2 separate regions of the Homo sapiens genome follow, and region 2 is linked to region 1. A link means that fine-mapping ties the variant in region 1 to the expression of a gene that starts in the linked region. Tissue or cell type: liver. Region 1 holds a variant in brackets; the other region holds the start of a gene. All regions are shown on one strand. Distances are from middle to middle.

Region 1 (10,207 bases):
CAGGGGACCCATGCTCCAAGCCGAGACCTAGAGCAAGTTGTTGAACACTTCTAGCCCTTACCTAATCCATCTATACTTCCAGCAGCAGCAGCAGTGGCTAAAATTCCTGAACTCAAATTATTTGGTATCACAGACTAATAAAATTTCCCATACACACTCAGAGAAGGGGAGGAGGAGGCTGAGATAGGATTGTCAATTTTTATTTCTCCAAATAAAATGAGAAAATATTATTTGAACTTTAAAAACATGAAACAATTAAAATCTTAGATAACATTAAATTCTTTAAATTTAATATAACTGAGTTTATAAAAATTTGACTTTTTTTTCATTTATTCAGAATTGATAAAAATTTCCTCATGCATCAGAACCAAAATATGTCATTGTACTTGGGAACTCAGGTTACAGCACTTCTAAAAAGCATTAGAATACTGTAATTCTTTCAAAGTTCAGAATACTAGCAGATTTGAAAGAGTGTTTTTTGCTCCAAAATTCTATGGAATTCTGTAATTTGAGATGCTTCAAACCCATAATTATCTTTTTTTATTATAGACTCTTTTAAAAATGATTTTTTTAACTGAATGTTCTGTTTGCAGGTTGATAAGAGCAACTTTAAATGTGAAGATCGACTCATATTTTTTCCACTTTAGCCAAATGATTAATTTGATGGCAAAGGAACCTAAAAGTATTCAGTACATTTGCACTGTAAGGACTCAGCTACTATGCTCTGAAGTTTTTATCTCTCATTCATAAATGTGCTTAACAGAACTATATCTTCTGAAGAGTTTACTTATTGTTGTTATTTTTAATGTGTTCTACATATCAAAGAAAATCACAAATGTGAATCTTGGATTAAAACTACATGTTACCATGCTGTCCCCTGTAAAACGTGGATAAAAGTGACAGCACTCTCATATTGATTGAGGTAGCTGTGAAGCTTACATGAGTTATCTGAAATAATTTTGTGATCTAAAGAATTTTAAACTCTCAGTATTTTATAAAAACTCCTTAAAATCATAGATAACTTGGAAATTGTTTCAAAGAGTGCATGGTATTATGATATTATAGCATTTTAAAAGTAACAAAATACATTTTTAAAATATCTCATCAAAGATTTTTGAAAGAAATAATGGGGTTGAGGTTCTTTTATCCTTAAGATTGTAAAAAACAAATTTGTTATGCATGAGGGCAATGCCCTCAAGATATAAGTTTGTAGAAGAATGTAGAATATTTTAAGAACAATTAAATCAAATGAGGCAAAGTAAAATAGGATATAAATGAAGCCCATTTTAGGAAAATGTGACAGAAAATTCATGCTACATAGCTTTGCTAAATGTAGTAATTGGAATATTTTACAACCTAGCTTAAATTAGCATGTCCTAGAAAAATGATTTAATCTAATAGGGGAGGCTTAAATCTTCTGTTTTTATTTTTCTTGGAAACTAAGAAACAGTAGGTTGTTTTTTCATTTCTTGCATTTTTTTCTCCTGAATTTAAAATAATAATTACCTAGCACAGAAGAATATTAGTACAGCAGAAATGGGTAATGACTTAGAAAGTATCCAATATGGGTCGGGCGTGGTGGCTCACGCCTGTAATCCCAGCCCTTTGGGAGGCCGAGGCGGGCGGATCACAAAGTCAGGAGATCGAGACCATCCTGGCTAACACAGTGAAACCCCGTCTCTACTAAAAATACAAAAAATTAGCCAGGCGTGGTGGCGGGTGCCTGTAGTCCCAGCTACTCGGGAGGCTGAGGCAGGAGAATGGCGTGAACCCGGGGGGCGGAGCTTGCAGTGAGCCGAGATCGCGCCACTGCACTCCAGCCTGGGCGTCAGGGCGAGACTCCGTCAAAAAAAAAAAAAAAAGAAAGAAAGAAAGAAATTATCCAATATGGGACCAAATACAGTCCATCAGTGATTGGTGATCATTGATTCACTATTGGCAGAGGACAGTGAAGCTTCCTCTGAACCTCTCAGAAAAGAATCATAAACTTGTTTTTCATTTCTATGGCAGATGTTTATTGATTTTTATGATGCACGAAGAGTGTACCTGACACAGGTTGACAGTGGCAAAGATAACACTGCTCCTGCCCCTGGGGAGCCAGCAGCTTATTCCAATGAATGGGATGTTTTCCATGGTAAGTGAAATACATGATCCTTTGAAGGCACATTCCAAGAACATCTAACATAATCCAGAGCATCAGGGATGCCTCTGTGAAGGAATTAACCTAAAAACTGACTTTTGGAAGGTGTTAACTGGGAAAGAGATTGGTAATAAGGTGTTCCCCGGAAGGAAAGAGAAGAAAAGAGGCAAAGGCTCAGAGACGACCAGGGCCACACAGATGCTAAATACCATTCAGGATGCCCCACACAGAGAATGAGAGGGAAGTAGGGGACATGTATCAAAGGGCTGTGTATGATGTCTTAGCGGGAACTAAAAAATGCTTAATAAATAAGACATCCGCTGCAGCTACTGCTTCTTTATTCTGGAGGAATAACACAATTCATATATGGAGCAAGAGTCTGATGAGACAGAATGCTCAAATACCCAAGTTATAGAAAGCAGGTTTATTACTTACAAATAGGTAGCAAGGGACCACAGAAACCGGGATTCAGGGCAAGCTTGCTTCAGGACAAGGCTCAGGAAAGCTGCCCAGGGCAGATGTAGCCTCTTCTGTAAGTGCCCCAGGGTTTATACCCCAGGGAACATGACACACTGTGCTAAAGCTTTGAAGGACATCCTGTTTCTGGGAGGGACTGTAACAGAACCCAGGTTGTTCCAGACAGCTTCTGCTTATATCAGGATGTGCATTCCCAGAACATTCTACAGTTATTGTTGAAAACTACAAACAAGAAAAGGGGAAACTGGGTTGGTTCAAGACCACCTGGAGAACTGTCGTGTGGGAATCAGATGACCAGAAAAATCCTAAACCTACCAATAACCCTAAGATATAAAGAGCGAGATAGGTTCTGCGTGGAATGTGGGATTCAGCCATGCTGTTATTTTATTTTATTTTTGAGACAGAGTCTCGCTCTGTCGCCCAGGCTGGAGTGCAGTGGTGAGATCTCGACTCACTGCAGCCTTGACCTCCTAGGCTCCAGGGATCCTCCCATCTCAGCCTCCTGAGTAGCTGGGACTACAGACATGCACCAACCACACCTGACTAATTTTGTTTATTTCTTGTAGAGATGGGTCTCACTATGTTGCCCAGGCTGGTCTTGAACTTCTGGGCTCAAGCAATCCTCCCACCTCAGCCTCAGTGCTGGAATTACAAGCCTCAGCCACTGCACCCAGCCACCTGTAGTCTTTTTTAAGGATGTTTCTGTTAGCAACAAATTTTCATAGTTTTCCTTTATCTTAGGAGGCTTGCATTTTCCCTTCATTCCTGAAGGGTATTTTTGCTGCATATAAAATCCAGAGTTGATTGTTCTTTTCTTTTAGCACTTGATGCTTTGTGCCACTTTCTTTTGGCTTCCATGATTTCAGATGATAACTCTACTGCCGCTCTAATTGTTGTTCTTCTGTAGGCAATGCACTGCTTTTCTCTAGTTTCTTAACAACTAGCTATATCTGCAGTGGTCCTGTTTCCAAATAAAGTTAAATTCCGAGGTACTGAGGATTAAGACTTCAACACACAAATTTGAGGGGGATTCAGTTCAGCTGGTAACATCATGTTAGCTCTTTATTTAAGATTTTCAAAACTCTCTTATCAAGATTTTTCCATTATTTCCAGCAGCATTAGTGGTTCGCCCATCATTTTATTGAAAATAAGTCTTAATTATTGTTGGTTTATTCATTCAATCGTTTATACAATCATTGATTTATTTAGTTACGAAAATCTTGAGCTCCTATACTGTGCCAAGAAGTGGTGATAAAAAGTTTTTATATGACATCAGCATCTAAGAATTTATGGTCCATTACAGGGGCAAAAAAAGAGGCAGGTACACATATAGCCATATGAAAGTTTCAACAAGGTCAGTTCCATCAGAGTGGTAAGGAATGTGCTTTGGTGATTTTGAGGATGGAGATTATTTTCATGTTAAAAAGGGTATCAAGGAAAGCTTCATGGAGAGAGTAGTATTTTATTGACATTTTTAAAAATAGGCAAGATTTTAATACATGAAGATGAGAAGAAAAGGGAACTCCTAGTAGAAGAAAGAGATTAAACAAAGGCAAAGAGATGAGAAAATGTTTGATGTGCACAAGAAACAGGATTCTACTTGCTGCTTTTTGTTCATCAGGGCTAATTATGCCACCCACAAGTTTGGAAATTCTTTCAGAGCAGAAATAAGGTATTTGTGTATCAGAGAGAATGAGCCAGACTTTAGAATTAATCAGACCTCAGTCTAAATCCTAGCTCCCACACTTAATAGCTGTGTGCTCTCAGCTTCTCTCAGTCAGTTTCCTCACTACCGACCTTACAGATGGTCTTAAGGCCATAAGAAAGGAATACATGGTATTCAGCGTTCTACCTGTAATTTCCACTATAGCGACAGGCAGACAGAACCAATGTGCATGGTTGTTTACTTCACAGATGTTCCCGTTCTGTTGGCAAGTATGGGCTGCAATTCATCCCTCTCTTCACCTGCCAAGTTTGTGTCCTGGCTCAGGGCTGCATCCACCTCTGTGAAGCAATGCCTGCTTCTCCCTAGCAAATCCTCTTCCCATTGCCTAGCTGAATACCAATTCAGAAGCAGCACCTTTTTTTAATTCATGTAAAAGAACAATGAAGATGAGTCACAGCTTTGGGCACATGATGGGTATACGTGGTTAGGCCAAATAGATTATTGTCTCTAATTGACTTCATAATAAAAGCTTTCATGATAAAGACCAAGATGTCTAAAGACTTTGTTCAAATACCTGT[G/A]CATTTTGTTCATGACCTATGATTTTCCTGATTGAAAAAATCATAAAATTTTACCTCATATATTTGCTTTTTGGTTACAATCCTAGAATCTGAGGCACAATACAAGAAGCAAGAGATGATTTTTAAATCAAATCTAAGCATTCTTTGGTAGTGAGAAGAAAAAATTAACAGGGCTGTAGTGAAATGTGCACAAATCTGAATGGTGCTAAGACATGGAATATGTAAAGTTCAGTCATTACAACTGTTTGATTAGATAACTAATTATAATTACTTATGCTATATGGCTTAGTTAATATGATTAAATAAGGAATGTTTGATGCTATCCAGTTACACCCGAAATGGTAAAGTGATGTAAATGGGATTGAAGTGTCAGTAGAAATTTTTACTTAAGTACAGCGGTGTTGCCTCTGTGAAGGCTTCCTCACCATCTTTGAGCCTATCACATACTAGAGAAGAATCCTAATTCTAGAAATAAAATTACATGGACTTTAATTCTGATTGGCTATCTGCAAGCAGTGCAAACCATGAGCAAGTTATTGAACCTCTCTCAGCAATCAATTACTTTTTACATAGGCCTGCTGTGATGATTAAATGAGATGATTTATACAAACCACTTAGCAAGATTGCCTGGAATATGATAATCTCTCAATAGTTAGCATCTTCTAATATTAATATCACCCGATATTATTTTCTAATTTCCCCATTGTATCAGACTTGCTTGCACATCCATCTATGGTAGTCATTGCTTTCTCTAACCATATAGAATTCATTGTGGTTTTCAAAATCATGCTGAAATCACAGCTAGTGTAGTTGTAATCATAAAGCCTGGCCCCAGCTTTGAACTTCTAATGCTGTAGAAGTTACATGGAGCAGCCATAATGAATATTTGCAGAAGGAAGGGTATCCAAGAAGGACAGAGGGAAAGAGAACGAAACAGAGTTATGAAAACAGGTAAGCATTTGAAAGTTACAAGAAGACTGGAAGTCAAAGACTATATGTATTATCAAAGACCTGAGTTGAGGAAAAGCTGCATAAACTCATACATTTATATCAGCCACTATTAACTCTTTTGCCCCAATGAGTATATGTATGGAGCCAATGTTTTGAATACATACTTCCTTAAGCTACAACCCATACTTTCCTTTGAAGATAAATACAATAATTATTAAAATCTATTGGCAAAAGTCCAGGCACAGTGACTCACACCTGTAATCTCAGTACTTTGGGAGGTTGAGGTGGGCAGATCACTTGAGCCCAAGAGTTCAAGACCAGCCTAGGCAACATAGTGAGATCCCACCTCTACAAAAAATACAACAATTAGCCTGGCATGGTGGCAGGCACCTGTAGTCCCAGCTTACTTGGAAGGCCGAGGTGGGAGGATCACTTGAGTCAGGGAAACGGAGGTTGCAGTAAGATGAGCTCATGCCACTGCATTCCAGCCTGGATCACAGAGTAAGACCCTGTCCCAGAAAAAAAAAAATTAGTGGCAATCATTTTAACCATGTAATATGATCTACTGTATACTCTTGGTCAAGTACAAAGAACTGAAGACAATTGCTGATAATGGTTGTCTGTATAATTTTCAGCAGTAACACATCCATGTATGATAAGCTAGGCAAGTGTTGAAATAGACATAATTGTCCATCCTGAAGTTTACACTTCTAATTTACCACCTCACAATGGGACTTAAAGAACAGATAGCTTTCTTCTGATTTGAAAGCTAATTTATGTTGAATTTATCTGTTACAAAAATAAAGCAATTTCATGTTTTAGTTTTTTTTTTTAACCTCTGATCTAAGACAACAATTATTAAGATACACTAGCGTAGACTGTGGTAAAGAGAATAGCTTTAGGAGTCAAACAGACCTATGTTAAAATTCTAGATCTACCATGTACTGGTTATATAGAGTAAAAATTATAAGAACAGCCTCAAAGATGGGTAGTTTAAATTGAATAATGTATGACTCGCTTAGCATGGTGTCTGGAATGTTACAAGCCTCCAGTAAAGAGTAGCAATTGTTCTGCGACCAAAAATATCTATTATAGAGACAGCATTCAGATAATTGGTGCTAAAGACAGACTTCTAACAGGAATATTAATAGAAATAAAACACTAAGACAATTGTTAAAATGTGAGCTCCAGGAGACAGCACTATTTGTTCATTTTGTTCACTCCTTTATATCCTAAACATTTCTGACACAGAGCAAATGCTTAATAAACATTTGTTATATTAATTAATAAAAAGCTATAGAAAATTACATCCCAATAAAGACCCTATCGGCCCTGGGAAAGCACGACGGTGTCCGTCTTTCTTCTCCATCCTCCCAGCATGCTCTGTGCTAAGGGTTTCATCCTGGCTGTAAAGTAGGAGGCAGCCCTGCAGCTCAAAGCTTTTGTTTTGTTTTGCTTGAATTATAAATTGACAATTTATAATTTTATAAATTTATAGGGTACAAAGTGATGCTATGAGTTATGAATACAATGTGGCATAATTAAAACAAGCTTGTTAACATATCCAGCACCTCCAATAGTTAAGATTGTTTGTGGTGAAAACACTCGAAATTTACTCTCAGAAATTTTGAAATATACAATACTCTATTATTAACTATATTCACTATGCTGTGCAACATAACCCAAAAATGTATTTCTCCTAAGTTTTTATACACTTTGACCATCATGTCCCCCATTACCCCACCCTCCAGCCTCTGTAACCACCGTCCTACTCTCTGCTTCTGTGAGTTCAATTGATTTAGATTCTACATATAAGTGAGAATGTGGCATTTGTCTTTCTGTGCCTGGCTTATTTCACTTAGCATAACATTTCCAGTTCCATCCATGTTGTCACAAACATCAGGATTTCCTTCTCTTTTAAGGCCAAATAGTATTCCGGTTTGCGTACATAGCATATTTTTTTTTATTCATTCTTCTGTTGATGGACATAGGTTGATTCCATAACTTGGCTATTGTGAATAATCCTGCAAGGAACATAGAAGTGCAGATATCCCTTTGCCAAATTGATTTCATATCTTCTGGGTAACTATTCAGAAATGGGATTGCTGGATCATATGGCAATTCTATTTCTAGTTTTTCCAGGAACCTTCACACAGTTTTCCGTAATGGCTGTGTTAATTTACATTCCCACCAACAGCATGCAAGGGATCCCTTTTCTCCACATACTCATCAATACTTATATTTCTTCTTTTTGATAGTAGCCATTCTAACAGCATGAAGTGAGATTTTATTGTGGTTTTAGTTTGTATTTCCCTAATAATTAGTGATGTGGAGCACCTTTTCATACACCTGTTAACCATTTGTATGGCTTCTTCTAAAATTATCTATTCAGGTCCTTTGCCCATTTCTAAAACTGTGTTGTTTTCTTACTATTGAATTGTTTGAGTTCCTTATACATTATATTTTGGATAATTAGCTCCTTAGGACTTGTATGATTTGCAAATATATTCACTCATTCAGTAGGGTGTCTCTTTACTCTGTTGATTTCTTTCCTTTGCTATGCAGAAGCTTTACAGTTCAACATAATCCCATTTGTCTATTTTTGTTTTTATTGCCTGTGCTTCTGGGGTCAAATCTAAAAAATCATTGCCCATACAATGTCATGTAATTCCCCCCCTGTGTTTTCTTTTGGCAGCTTTACAGTTGTGGTCTTATGTTTACGTCTTTCATACATTTTGATTTGATTTTTGTATATGGTATGAAATAATTAACAGAACGAAGGGCAAAAACCATATATCTGATTATATGCAGATAAAGCTTTTGACAAAAATTCTAAATTCTTTCATAATTAAAAATTGTCACCAAATTAGATATAGAAGAAATGTACCTCAACTCAATAAAGGCCATGTGTGAGAAGCCCACAGCTAGCATTATACTCATTATTGAAAAACTGAAACCCTTACTTCTAAGACCTGGAACAAGACAAGGATGCCTACTCTCACAACTTCTATTTAACAGTAGTGGAAGAACTTGCCAGAGCAGTTAGGCAAGAGACAGAAATAAAGGTATCCAAGTAGGGAAGGAAGTAGTGAAATTGTCACCGTTTGGTGATGACATGATTTTATATATAGAAAACTATACAAACTCTCACCAAAGAAGTTTTAGAACTAATAATCAAATACAGTAAAGTCACAGGATACAAAATCAACACACAAAAGTCATTAGCATTTCTATACACTAACAACAAATGATTTGCAAAAGAAATCAAGAGAGCAATCGCATTTAGAAGAGCTACAAAAACTAAAATACTTAGGAATAAATTTAACCAAAGAGGTGAAAGACCTATACACTGAAAACTATAAAACTTTGATGAAAGAAATTGTAGAAGACACAAATAAATGGAAAGATATCCTGTGTTCATGGATTGAAAAAAATAATGTTTTGAAAATGTCCATACTATGTAAAGCAATCTATAAATTCAATGCAATTTCCATCAAAATTCCAACATTATTTTTCACAGAAAGAGAAAAAAAAACTGAAATTTATATGGAACTACAAAAATATCTGAATAGCCAAGGCAATCTAGAGCAAAAAGAACAAAGCTGGAGGTATCACATTACCTAATTTCAAGCAATACTACAAAGCAATAGTAATTAAAATACCATGGTACTGGCCAAAACATTAATAATAATAATAGATAACTTGACCAAGGGAATAATATAGAGAGCTCAGACATAAACCCGTACATATATGGCCAATTAATTTTTGGCAAAGGAGCCAAGTATTTGCAATGAAAAATAATAGTCTCTTTCATAAATAGTGCTGAGAAAACTAGATACCCACATACAGAAGAATGAAATTGGGGCTTAAAGCTTCTCAAACATGAAAAGAAATTTTCTGTACATTAAAAGCCTTCCAGTCAAGGAGCTCTTATTTATTTTTAGTCACCTAAATGGAAACTATTTTAATCTTTTTGGATAGAAAGTGAAGTCAGTGCCAAGGGCAAAGGACTTGGGTACTAAATATTTGGCTCTGGCCTCAAGCCTGCCATTCACTAGCTGTGCGGTCTTGAGGTCGCTGCAATAACCAACACCTGATGTAACTCAAGGGTTTATGTATGTTATAAGAAGCCAGAGATGTATTCAACAAGAGAGGGAAATAAAGTTATGAAACATCCTGTGAGTTGATTTCCTCCCCAGTAAAGAGAAATAACCTCTGATTTGTCTACACTATGATTCCTAAACGATTGCTCTACAAAAATAATATATATTCACTTTTCCGGGATAATACCACTTCATTACAATAATAGCTACAGCTTATTATAAATAATTTTTAAATCCCTTCTAAAGGAAAGGATTGAAATACCTGGACAACGAGTAAAGAAACAAACTGAAA
Region 2 (10,207 bases), 54 kb after region 1:
CAGATGGTGCTATGGAAGCATAAAGGAGGGTCTCAATTAGAGTGGGCTGAGGGGACAGATATATTGGAGGGGCTGACGCTTGATAACCTGGGTTATTAATTTTGAGTGGAGGTTAGATCAGACAGGCAGGGAAAGACATTCCAGAGAAAAAGAAGAGTAAGCAGTGTGTCTGTAATAGTGACCCATGCCTACCCAGGAAAGTTCAACCATCACTCATATGGGGAAGTGGGCCCAAACAAAAGGCATGAACTATCCTAAAATTGGGAGAGAACACAGAGAAAAATGAATGCTAGGTGAAGATATCTTTGTATAATCCACAAAAAAATAAAATATTAAACCAATTAGTGCTAAAGGTTTTACCCAGGGAGCATTCATGAGTCTTTAATGGTTCGCTGATAAGAAGCCACAAAAGACACTTTAATATGAACACTCAGTTATGGGAAGGAAATTAGAGAACATGGAAATGTGGAAGCCAAACTTGGAAATGGGCACTGAAGAGGAAATTGATAGCCAGAGTGTCAATGCATGCATGCGGGTTAAGGGAAGCAGGATACCAGCTGCAAGAAGTTTACTGGGAGGGGTTTCCCACGCCATTGTTGTGGTCTACAAAAGTAGAAAGCAGGTAAGATGTTCAGAGAGCTGGGTAAGTTAGTCACATGGAAGCTGTGAAAATTTCTAGAACAAATAGTAGGGAGATATGGGGTAGTACCTAGAGGGGAGAGAAGTGTTCATTAGTGATTTCTTTACATTCTAGGTGATGTGAACCTGCTGAAATGCTGCAGGGATTTCAGGCAAGTTAGCCTTGGCAGTGAGAACAGATACAAAGAGAGAAGGAGGTAGGAGGTGTGTGTGGGGACGGGGGAAGTGGGGGAGATTTTTATTGTTCTGAGATAGGTCTAAAATGAAGGACAGTATATCAGTCAGTACAGGCTAACTGCTATAATAAATAACCACACAATTTTGGAGTGGCTTAACCCAAGAAGATTTATTTCTTCACAGTCCAATGCAGTTTTCTTGGGAGGGGAAATTATCAGCTCTACACAGTCATTCAGGAGCTCCGGCCTTCTTCCATCTAGTGGCTCCTCCATCTCTTAGATCCTAGGAGTCCTACCATGAATCCTCTACAAATGGCCAAATTGGCAAAAGAAAGCTCTGGAAGATTGTGTTAATAATAGTTTCAGTTTCAGGAGCTTTCAGGAGCGGCACCTGGGAGTGGCTTATTCTACTTCCACCCACATTCCATTTGCCAGAACTCAGTCACAGGGCATGGGGCAAATGACTGCAGGCATGCTGGGACTTGTCATTTAGCTGGGTGCCCAGAAGGAAGGGAAATGGGATTGGTGAAGCCATATAACCATCTCTAATCCAGATGGACACAGAGTATTCTTTAGCTCAGACCAGGGTGAGTATGTTAACTGCCTAAGGCAGTGAAGGACAGGAGATGGAACAGTTCATTTCATTAAAGGATAAAGTGGGGCATATAATTTTCCTGAACCCTTACTCCAAGCTCCAAGGCCAATTTTAAAGGATGACAGTTTGAGCCAAGGACCTGTTCAGTAAAATTTGGAGTAAAGCTTTTCAAATAGTGCCAAAGAAGCAACCAAAAACAAAAAAAAAAAAAGAGAGAGAGAGGATACATCAGATGGCACCAGCAGAAAAGATCACATACATTTGATTGACTCCTAATCACTCCCCTGTAACTTTTTTCCCCACACAAATTCCTCACACCGGAAATGTTCATTTAAAACAATTAAAAATCCTTCAGGGAACCCCCACCCCACTCCCTGCTACCACATGATCAGCCCAGGGGCTCACATGCTGAAATCTATAGAGAGCTTTAGGTCTCAGAGTATTTGAAGGATAGGCAGGGATCTCACCACCTTAACACAGAAGCAGTCCTACACCCCAATCAGGGAAAGCCTTGGACACTATCTATTGCTACCTTTAGCCTGGGGCAAAGGAGAAAGAGAACTGCACAGCTGTCCTAAACAAGTAGGGTATGAGACCTCTCTCTTCCACCAAGAATAATAATAAGATAGCCTTGATTGAAAACTCACTGTGCGTCAGACACTATGCTTACATGTATGAACTCACAACAATTCAGTGAGGTAACCACTATTATTATCTCTTTTTTACAGATAAGGAAGTTTCCTGATGCCCACAAAGTTTAAATAACGGACTCGAGGTTACCCAGCAATAAATGTTGAAAAAGAGTTTAAATTAGTTGGCTTTCAGAGTTTGTGTTTTGGACAACTATATTCTACTTTGGACAGCACTGTATTTTCTCATTGTAAAAGCAGGCAGGATGGAGTAAAAAATAAAAGTCAAAACAATTTGAAAACAATATTTTGTGATGAACATAAAACATTTTCTACAATCAGCATCCTTCATTTGATTGTCTTACTTTATTATCTGGTAAGTGCCAAAAGAAGACAAAGTGTAGATGTATTTTCCTTAGTTTACTTTTAGCTCCCTTTATTTCAAGCCTCACAGTCAATGTGTTCCCTGCCTTATGTTTCAAGGGGGCTCCAGGGTATTTTTTCTCCCATGTGATTACAAAAGCAGTTAGCCGTTTAGCCTAGCAGGGGGAATGAGAGGAAACGGAGAGGCCAAAAATTTTAAACTTTAGGCACTATATCTCCAATAACTGACAACATTTTATCTTAATTATGCTTTATAGTATTGGAATACTAAACAAAGAGGAACGACCTGCTTACTCTGTAGTCTGGAGCAGAATGAAATAGAACACGTAGGGCAGAACACAACAAATGAGTTGTAAATGTCTGTGCACAAGGCTTGATCTTGGGGATGGAGGGAGGATATTTTTTAAGTTATTCAAACGCTGAGTTGCTTTCAAAGAGTTCTTCTCAGACATCAACAATGAACTCTTCAGATACCCTCATCCCAGACAGCCCTGAAGTCCAGTTTATAACAAGACCAATAACTCACTCCTTATCTCTAAAGCTACTTGTTCAATTCTCTTGACTTCAGGGCCAAAATGAGTTGTTTATTACTTATGGCAAGTATAAAAAAGGCCATCTCAACCTGTGGTCAGTTCCACGAATGGCAACTTGTTTTCTGATAACTTGCATGCACATGGACAATAGCCAAATTTCCAAAAAGATTTAGGTACATCAATTGTATACCGATGGTCATTTAAAACCATTTTTTCCAGCAATATTTTAGCATCTAATTTGATAAATCACTGCATTTGGAGGCTGTGGGGGTGTACAGAGACCTTCAGAAAGCAAACATAAACTGGAGGCTTGGCGGTTTGAAGATATTCAAGCAGAAAAGTCTAGCAAAGAAAAAGGGGGTTGTAATATGGATCAGTCTCCATGTAACCTTGAGCCAATCATCTAACTTCTCTGAAACACCAGTTTTCTCATTTTATGAAACAAGATTTTATTCAATAAACACTATAACTTAGTGAAAGACTGGATCTGGTATCCCGTAGGCTTGGATGGATTGCTGGTACTAGTATTGGAGCTTTTGTTTCCCTGTTTGTTACAATTCGGATATTAGTGAGTACCCTACAGAGGAATAATGATTAAATTGTCTACTTAATTTACTCTTAAGTGTCTGACCACGTATAAGTGGTCAATACAGGCTGTTTTCATTTTTACTATTACTGATGGAACACACTGCATGACTAGCATTGGGAAAGAGGCCCAGAATACAAGGTTGTGCAGAATGCAAAGTCTATTCTCAAGGAATTCGCTTTGTAGGGAAGAGGTGGGGGGTTCAAATAGGAAGTATCAAATTCCTCATTGGGAAAGAAAAGAGGCTTCATAGAAAAGCTGCTGGAGCCCAGGCTTAAAGATGAGTAGCATTGGGGCCAGAACCAGATGTCTAAGAACTCTTTGAGGCTTAATGTTAGGAACTTTTGAAACTATTGGTCTGGAATGTTGTATATATGAAGTTCATTTTTTCAGCATCCAATATTCAGAACACATTCATTCATTAACTTTCCATCCAGAAATGTAATCATTAACTACTGCTGGAGCCTCCTTTCCCACAAAACCAAACAAAACTTGCTTAGCAATCCCAATTCTGAGGCTTGGAAAACACTTTTACATCCTACTCTCTGCTTGCATGTATGAACTCACATACATGAGTTGTGAGGTACTCCTCCTATATTCAGAAAATTGGAGGCCAATATCATAGGCACAGCCAGGGAATGCACCGGCCAAAGCTCAGGCTTTTGGGTGGCATTTGACACCAAGCTCCTTTTAAATCGGGCATCAGCTCTGGGTCAGCAGCCTCACTCCAGTCAAAGAAGAGGAGCCAAACGTCGCAGGAGCAATTTCAAAGACGTCTGGGGAACGAAAAGGGTCTTCGATCCAAGGACCAGCCTAGGGGCCATCGGGAACCAAGGCTCTGGGGGATCCCAGCAGGGCCCAGACGCCCGCCTCGGGCAATGTCGCTGCCTGCCCCGGGCCGCTCGCAGTGCCTGGGCCATACTGGGGTGCCCTGGGGTTTCTTCTCCATACCCAGACTCAGCTTCCCCGCTGGAGTCTGTCTTCCTGGAACACGGAACGCGGGCGGGCTGTGTTCTCAGTCACAATCAGCTCGGATGAGCTGGGGGGCGCGGGCGCAAGCGGGCATCGGCACCTGGCAGAAAGCGCCGCGCCCCCCGCGGGTGCGCACACCTCCGCTCCCCGGGGCGGCGCGCGGTCGGGTGTGCGGGGTACGGGGCGGGGCGGAGCGGAGCAGAGCAAAGCGCACAGGAGGCCCGCCTCTGCTCCCCTCCCCCGCCGGCGAAGATTGACACAGCTCGAGCACCCGCCCCAACCAATGAGCGCGTCCTGGGGCGGGCCCTGGGACCGGCTGCTCCGGCTACTTAGAGTCGTCGGCGCGGCGGTGGGAAAGCAGAGCCGAGCCGGGACTGTCCAGTGGGAGCAGGCGCCCCGGCCAGCGCAGACCTGGAGGCGCACGGGCGCCGCACCGCACGATTCGGCTCGGGGTAGAGCGGAGCCGCAGCCCCACGCGCAGCCCAGGACCCACTCGCCACCGCCGCTTCCTCAGCACCCATGGGGACCAGGAGACTTTAAAGGAGTTTGGGGTTTCGGGAGCAGGGAAATCACGGGTAGGGAGAAGCGGCTTTCTTTGCCTTGGAAACGGTTTTTCTTCATCCGATTGTTTGGATCCTGTGCTGGGTAGGAGGGAGAGGGGTCTTTGGGCTAAAAGTGAACCTCTCTACACACACACGCTCCCACCCACACCCACACACATACACTGCACTGGCTTTCTCCATCCTTCCCCTGCCTCTTTGTTAGGTTATTTTAGACAGAGCAGCCTCGCCCTGGCGCAGTCCCATTGGCCCTGATGGGGACAAGGCAAGAGAAGTAAGGGGCAGAGTGCACCTGCCTGTGAGGGCAGGTGTGCCCGGGTGCTTGGGCGTACGTGCAACGGCGAGCGTGCAAGCGTGGAGCTGAAATTGTGTACGAATGTGTGGGGTCTAAGTGTGCCAGTGTGTCGTCGCGAAGGTTTGTCATTGTGGGTGTATGTGACATACACCAGTATACCAGGCTGCCAGTGTCTGGACTCCCAAGTGTCCAAAATGTTGCTGGTGTCAAGTGAATGCCTGAGAATGTGTCTGATTGTCATTGTGCGAGCCGCTGTAAGGGGAGGAAGGCAACCTAGTGCAAAACTGGGAGGTGGGCTGGAGAGGGTGGGGACAGAAATGGGAGCTTGCTCCCAGCTCACTGGCCTTAGGCTCCCTTCTCCCTTTCAGCCCACCCCTCGGTCCTTCCTGGGTGTCCGTCTCCCACACTGCCACAGCCAGCACTCTCCTCCCCACCGGGACCCCGCAAGCTCTCCAGCCAGCCTGGGTGTTTTCTTCTGGGAGTTGGACCGAGTTCCCGGAAGGGGTCGGAGGCTGTGTGGTGGCGTCTGCTCTCGCCTGACCTGTGGCGGCTTCTCCGCCCCTCGTACCCCTGGGGAGGCACGGAGGACTCGGCTGGAAAGGGTGACTCCGGTGAGGGCACGTAAGCTAGCCGGCAGGTCCCAGGGGCACTGCACGTCTTGGGGAGGGACACCGAAAGGGGCAGCCCGGACTCTGACGGTGTCTCTGCCTCTCTGTGCCTCCGCAGATCCCCGCTCCTGGCCCTCGCCTCGCCACCTCATTGATGGGCAACCAACTGGACCGCATCACCCACCTCAACTACAGCGAGTTGCCCACAGGGGACCCGTCGGGGATTGAAAAGGACGAACTGCGGGTCGGGGTTGCCTACTTCTTCTCGGATGATGAGGAAGACCTGGACGAACGCGGGCAGCCCGACAAGTTTGGCGTGAAGGCCCCCCCGGGTTGCACCCCCTGCCCGGAGAGCCCCAGCCGCCACCACCACCACCTGCTGCACCAGCTGGTCCTCAACGAGACTCAGTTTTCCGCCTTTCGGGGCCAGGAATGCATCTTTTCCAAAGTGAGCGGTGGCCCTCAGGGCGCCGACCTAAGCGTCTACGCGGTCACCGCGCTGCCAGCGCTCTGCGAACCCGGCGACCTGCTGGAGCTGCTGTGGCTGCAGCCCGCGCCGGAGCCGCCCGCGCCCGCCCCGCACTGGGCCGTCTACGTGGGCGGCGGGCAGATCATCCACCTGCACCAAGGCGAGATCCGCCAGGACAGCCTGTATGAGGCGGGCGCGGCCAACGTGGGCCGGGTGGTGAATAGCTGGTACCGCTACCGCCCGCTGGTGGCCGAGCTGGTGGTGCAGAACGCCTGCGGCCACCTGGGCCTCAAGAGCGAGGAGATCTGCTGGACGAACTCGGAGAGCTTCGCCGCCTGGTGCCGCTTTGGCAAGCGGGAGTTCAAGGCGGGAGGGGAGGTGCCGGCAGGCACGCAGCCCCCGCAGCAGCAGTACTATCTCAAGGTGCACCTGGGAGAGAACAAGGTCCACACCGCCAGGTTTCACAGCCTGGAAGACCTCATCCGCGAGAAGCGCCGTATCGACGCCAGCGGCCGCCTGCGAGTGCTCCAGGAGCTCGCCGACCTCGTGGACGACAAGGAGTAGCCGCCTAGGGGCTGCCGGCCCCTCTGCCTCCCCCGCACCTCGCTCCCTTCCCTTCCCCGCACCCGGACTTCGCAGTCAGCGGTTCTCAACCTCTGCCCCGCCCCGCCACGCGCGTCCGCCGCCGGTGGCCCGGGCCCGGGCTGCACCCCCGCATCCCCAAGCCAGCGGCAGGAAGTCTCAGGAACTGCCCCAGGGCCGAAAGGGCGCCGCTGCGAGCGCCTGGCTGACAGCCACAGCGGTGGTGACGGTGCTGGGAGACCCCGCGTGCGCTTTCCCCTTGAGATGTAAACCGGGAACGGGGAAGGGGCTGAGGGGAGAAAGGACATGGCCTTCCCCGCGAGTCCATGGCCAGTGACTGTGGCCCGACTCGAAAACAACCCTCTTCTCAAAAGGGACCATCACCGCCCCGAGCGTGCGCACACAGACCGGTCGGAGGCGAGAACTGGTCTCTACAGGGCACAGTTCAGCTCCTCTGTGGATGCGTCCCCAGATCGCAGGATTTCCAAGAAATCGAGCCTGTCCCTTGTGCACTTGGGAATAATTCCCCAAGACAGCACTTCGGGATTCCGGGTTATCCTGAGGCTGCCCGGGACTTTTCCAGCTCTCCAGCCCCAGGTCTCCTGACATTGTGTTCCAGGCTGCGGGCTAAGCCAGACAGTGTTTGCCTCCGGTTCTTTCCACCGTGGGAAGCGAACGCCACCCCCACCCGCCTTTGCCTGCGAGTCTCCCTCGCTGGCAGAAGGGAAGCCGGCCCGGTCCCGGGAGGAAGATGGCGCTGCGAATTCGGTGAGGACAGCCGGCCCCGCCCCCGACAAGGAGCTCGCTCGTTCACCTGGTGTCTGGGAACTTGAATGTGTGAAGGGCGCTTATTGTTCTGAACCCTTGATTGCTCCCTCCTCGGGCTGCATTTCAAAAATAGTCATATTTTTAAAGGAGTTGGAGGAGAGGGAGGGGGAGGACATGGCACCATTCCAGAAACCAGCATTGTTACAACACCATAGCCAGTATATTTAGTTTGGCTTTTCCTAACATAGAAATCTTCAAAGCTGGGGAAGTGGAAATAAAGTTTTAAAAATGAGAGAGCAGTTTTCCAACTATGTCAACAAAGCCTATCGTGTTGATGTTTTTATTGACCATTTTAGCAACAGGCTAATAAAATTTCAAATTGAAATTTTTATTTTCATGGCTTTAATCCATGATAGTTTAAATACTGGGGGCCATTAAGAGTGGATGTAGCTAAGAGCTTAGCTAACATTGCCTTTTCACTCTATTTTTCTCAGATATTGTAAGCATTCTGTTTTTCAATATTGTAGTTAATTTTTTGGCTTTCAACAGCAGCCCTAGTAATGGTGGAGTTGTTAATTAATGTGTATATTGTACTGAATTTCTGTCAGTTAAGGGGTTCACTGCTTTGGTGGAAATTGGTGGAAATTGCTAGCAGGTTCCACGATGTTTATTTTTTTCTCCATGTTGTATATCATTACCATTTCACATACGCGTTTCTATTTTTCTTCCTCTCCTCCTGATCTCCTTAAAAATGAATCTAGAGTTGGTGGCTTTTTCCCCCTCCTCTTTGGCCAGTTCCACAGTTCAGTTCTTCCTGAAAACAGGGATGATGAACTTGTAGGATCAGGACAAATGTGTGTTTTTCAAAAACTTAAGGCTGGGTGTGAAACACCTTCTGTGGACAAGGATTTGTAAACTTCTCTCCTCCCTCCAGCTGCGGCCCCAGCCTAACTGATAGTTACTTGATTCAGTGTGCTAGACACTTAAATAGCATCTATGTCTCTTTCAAGGGAATTTGTCAAATAATGCTGTTTAGCTAATTGTTGCAAGCAATTGCATATTAACAGCTGTGATTTTGTTGGACAGCAAGTATTATGGCCAAAGCCAGTTTCTTGGCATTTCAAAAATAATGCAATAAAAACTAGTTGAGGTTAGCTGAGGCTGGAAATGCCTTTTTCATGGTAAATGATTCACTTCTATATTTTTCTTTCTTTTTCTTTTTTTTTCTTTGGTTTTCATCCTGGATTCATCCCCTGATCTTAAATCAAAACGTCAGATCAATGAACTATGAACTAAAGTATTTTTCTTAAGCCTATTGAGTGATTTATTTTTTAAAAAATGTTTAAATGCATATGCTTTTCTTTCAGCACAAACAACAGCAAAAACTTTTGTAATAACTAACTTACCTTTGCATGTATGAAGAACTGAGTCATTTATTTCCCTAACTTACTCCTCTTTCAAGTAACAGGTGGCAGATCATAAAATGAATTCTTTATTGTATCTACACACTCCACATTCTTTACTGTGTCCTACTACTGTATCTTGGCTCCCTGCTGTATTAAACACCATCTTAAGCACTTGTTCCTGCAGGACTCCTTCTTGACATTTTGTCTCCCCCTTCAAAGTCACTCAAAGAGTGGGACTTCATCAAAAGAAATGAATTAGTCTCTATCACACCGAATACTAAGATTTATTTCCTCTGATGGTACATAGATTTCTCTCTCACTAAGAGGGTCACTCTCATAGAGGAATGTCTTGTCAGTTTTATACTTGCTGAGGCTAGACTGACAATAAAAATGAGCTGGGCAGTTAAATTAGCATTTGTTACTATATTGGCCTATAAAGGATCAGGTTGATGATAATACCTCTAAAAATATGCAATAATAAAACAATAGTTATGAAAGAAACTTGAAAGGTTTGCAAGGTTTCTCCTATCCCTGTTAAAATTATCATTTATTATCTCTTTGTCAGTGTTAGTAAGGTAACCCATGACAGAATAATTTGAGTGATAGTTCATCATGCAGAGGATATGATCAAGATATTACCTAATGGTTTTATCCTGAAAAAGGTGTATACTTTTAGGGCACTGTTAACAATGCGAGTGAAACCAAGATGGTGCAAGTTCCCTTTGCAGATGGCGTGGGCACACTTGATTTTTATTATGAGTGAATGTAATCTTTCTGTATTTTACCAGAGTTACAGCAATTACCTGAAAAGTTTCCTAACATTTTAATAATGTTAGGGATTTCGTTTTGGTTTTAGTTGTCCTCAAGAGACAACAGGTTCACAGTAATTTCCATGATGTTGGGTGTGGCTAAGCTGGGGATTGGTTCTGTTCCCCCTGCTCCCGTGTAGAGAAAAGCTATATTTATACTGCATTCTTTCTCAACTTTCAGGTAAAACAAACTATG

The links. PIP is the estimated chance that this variant, and not a neighbour inherited with it, causes the effect.
Region 2: LRATD1 starts here. The variant in region 1 is fine-mapped to the expression of LRATD1 in liver (GTEx, PIP 0.96).

Annotation. Positions count from the first base shown.
Region 1 is chr2:14,573,406-14,583,612 of GRCh38, forward strand. No RefSeq gene overlaps it. Among named protein-coding and RNA genes, the nearest start is that of LRATD1, 54 kb to the right of the region's middle. The variant G/A (reference allele first, on the strand shown) is at 4,862.
Region 2 is chr2:14,627,849-14,638,055 of GRCh38, forward strand. It overlaps LRATD1 (LRAT domain containing 1), which reads left to right and starts at 4,869. Exons shown (of 2, transcript NM_145175.4): 1 at 4,869-5,089; 2 at 6,096-10,207. The coding sequence starts at 6,132. The coding sequence ends at 7,010.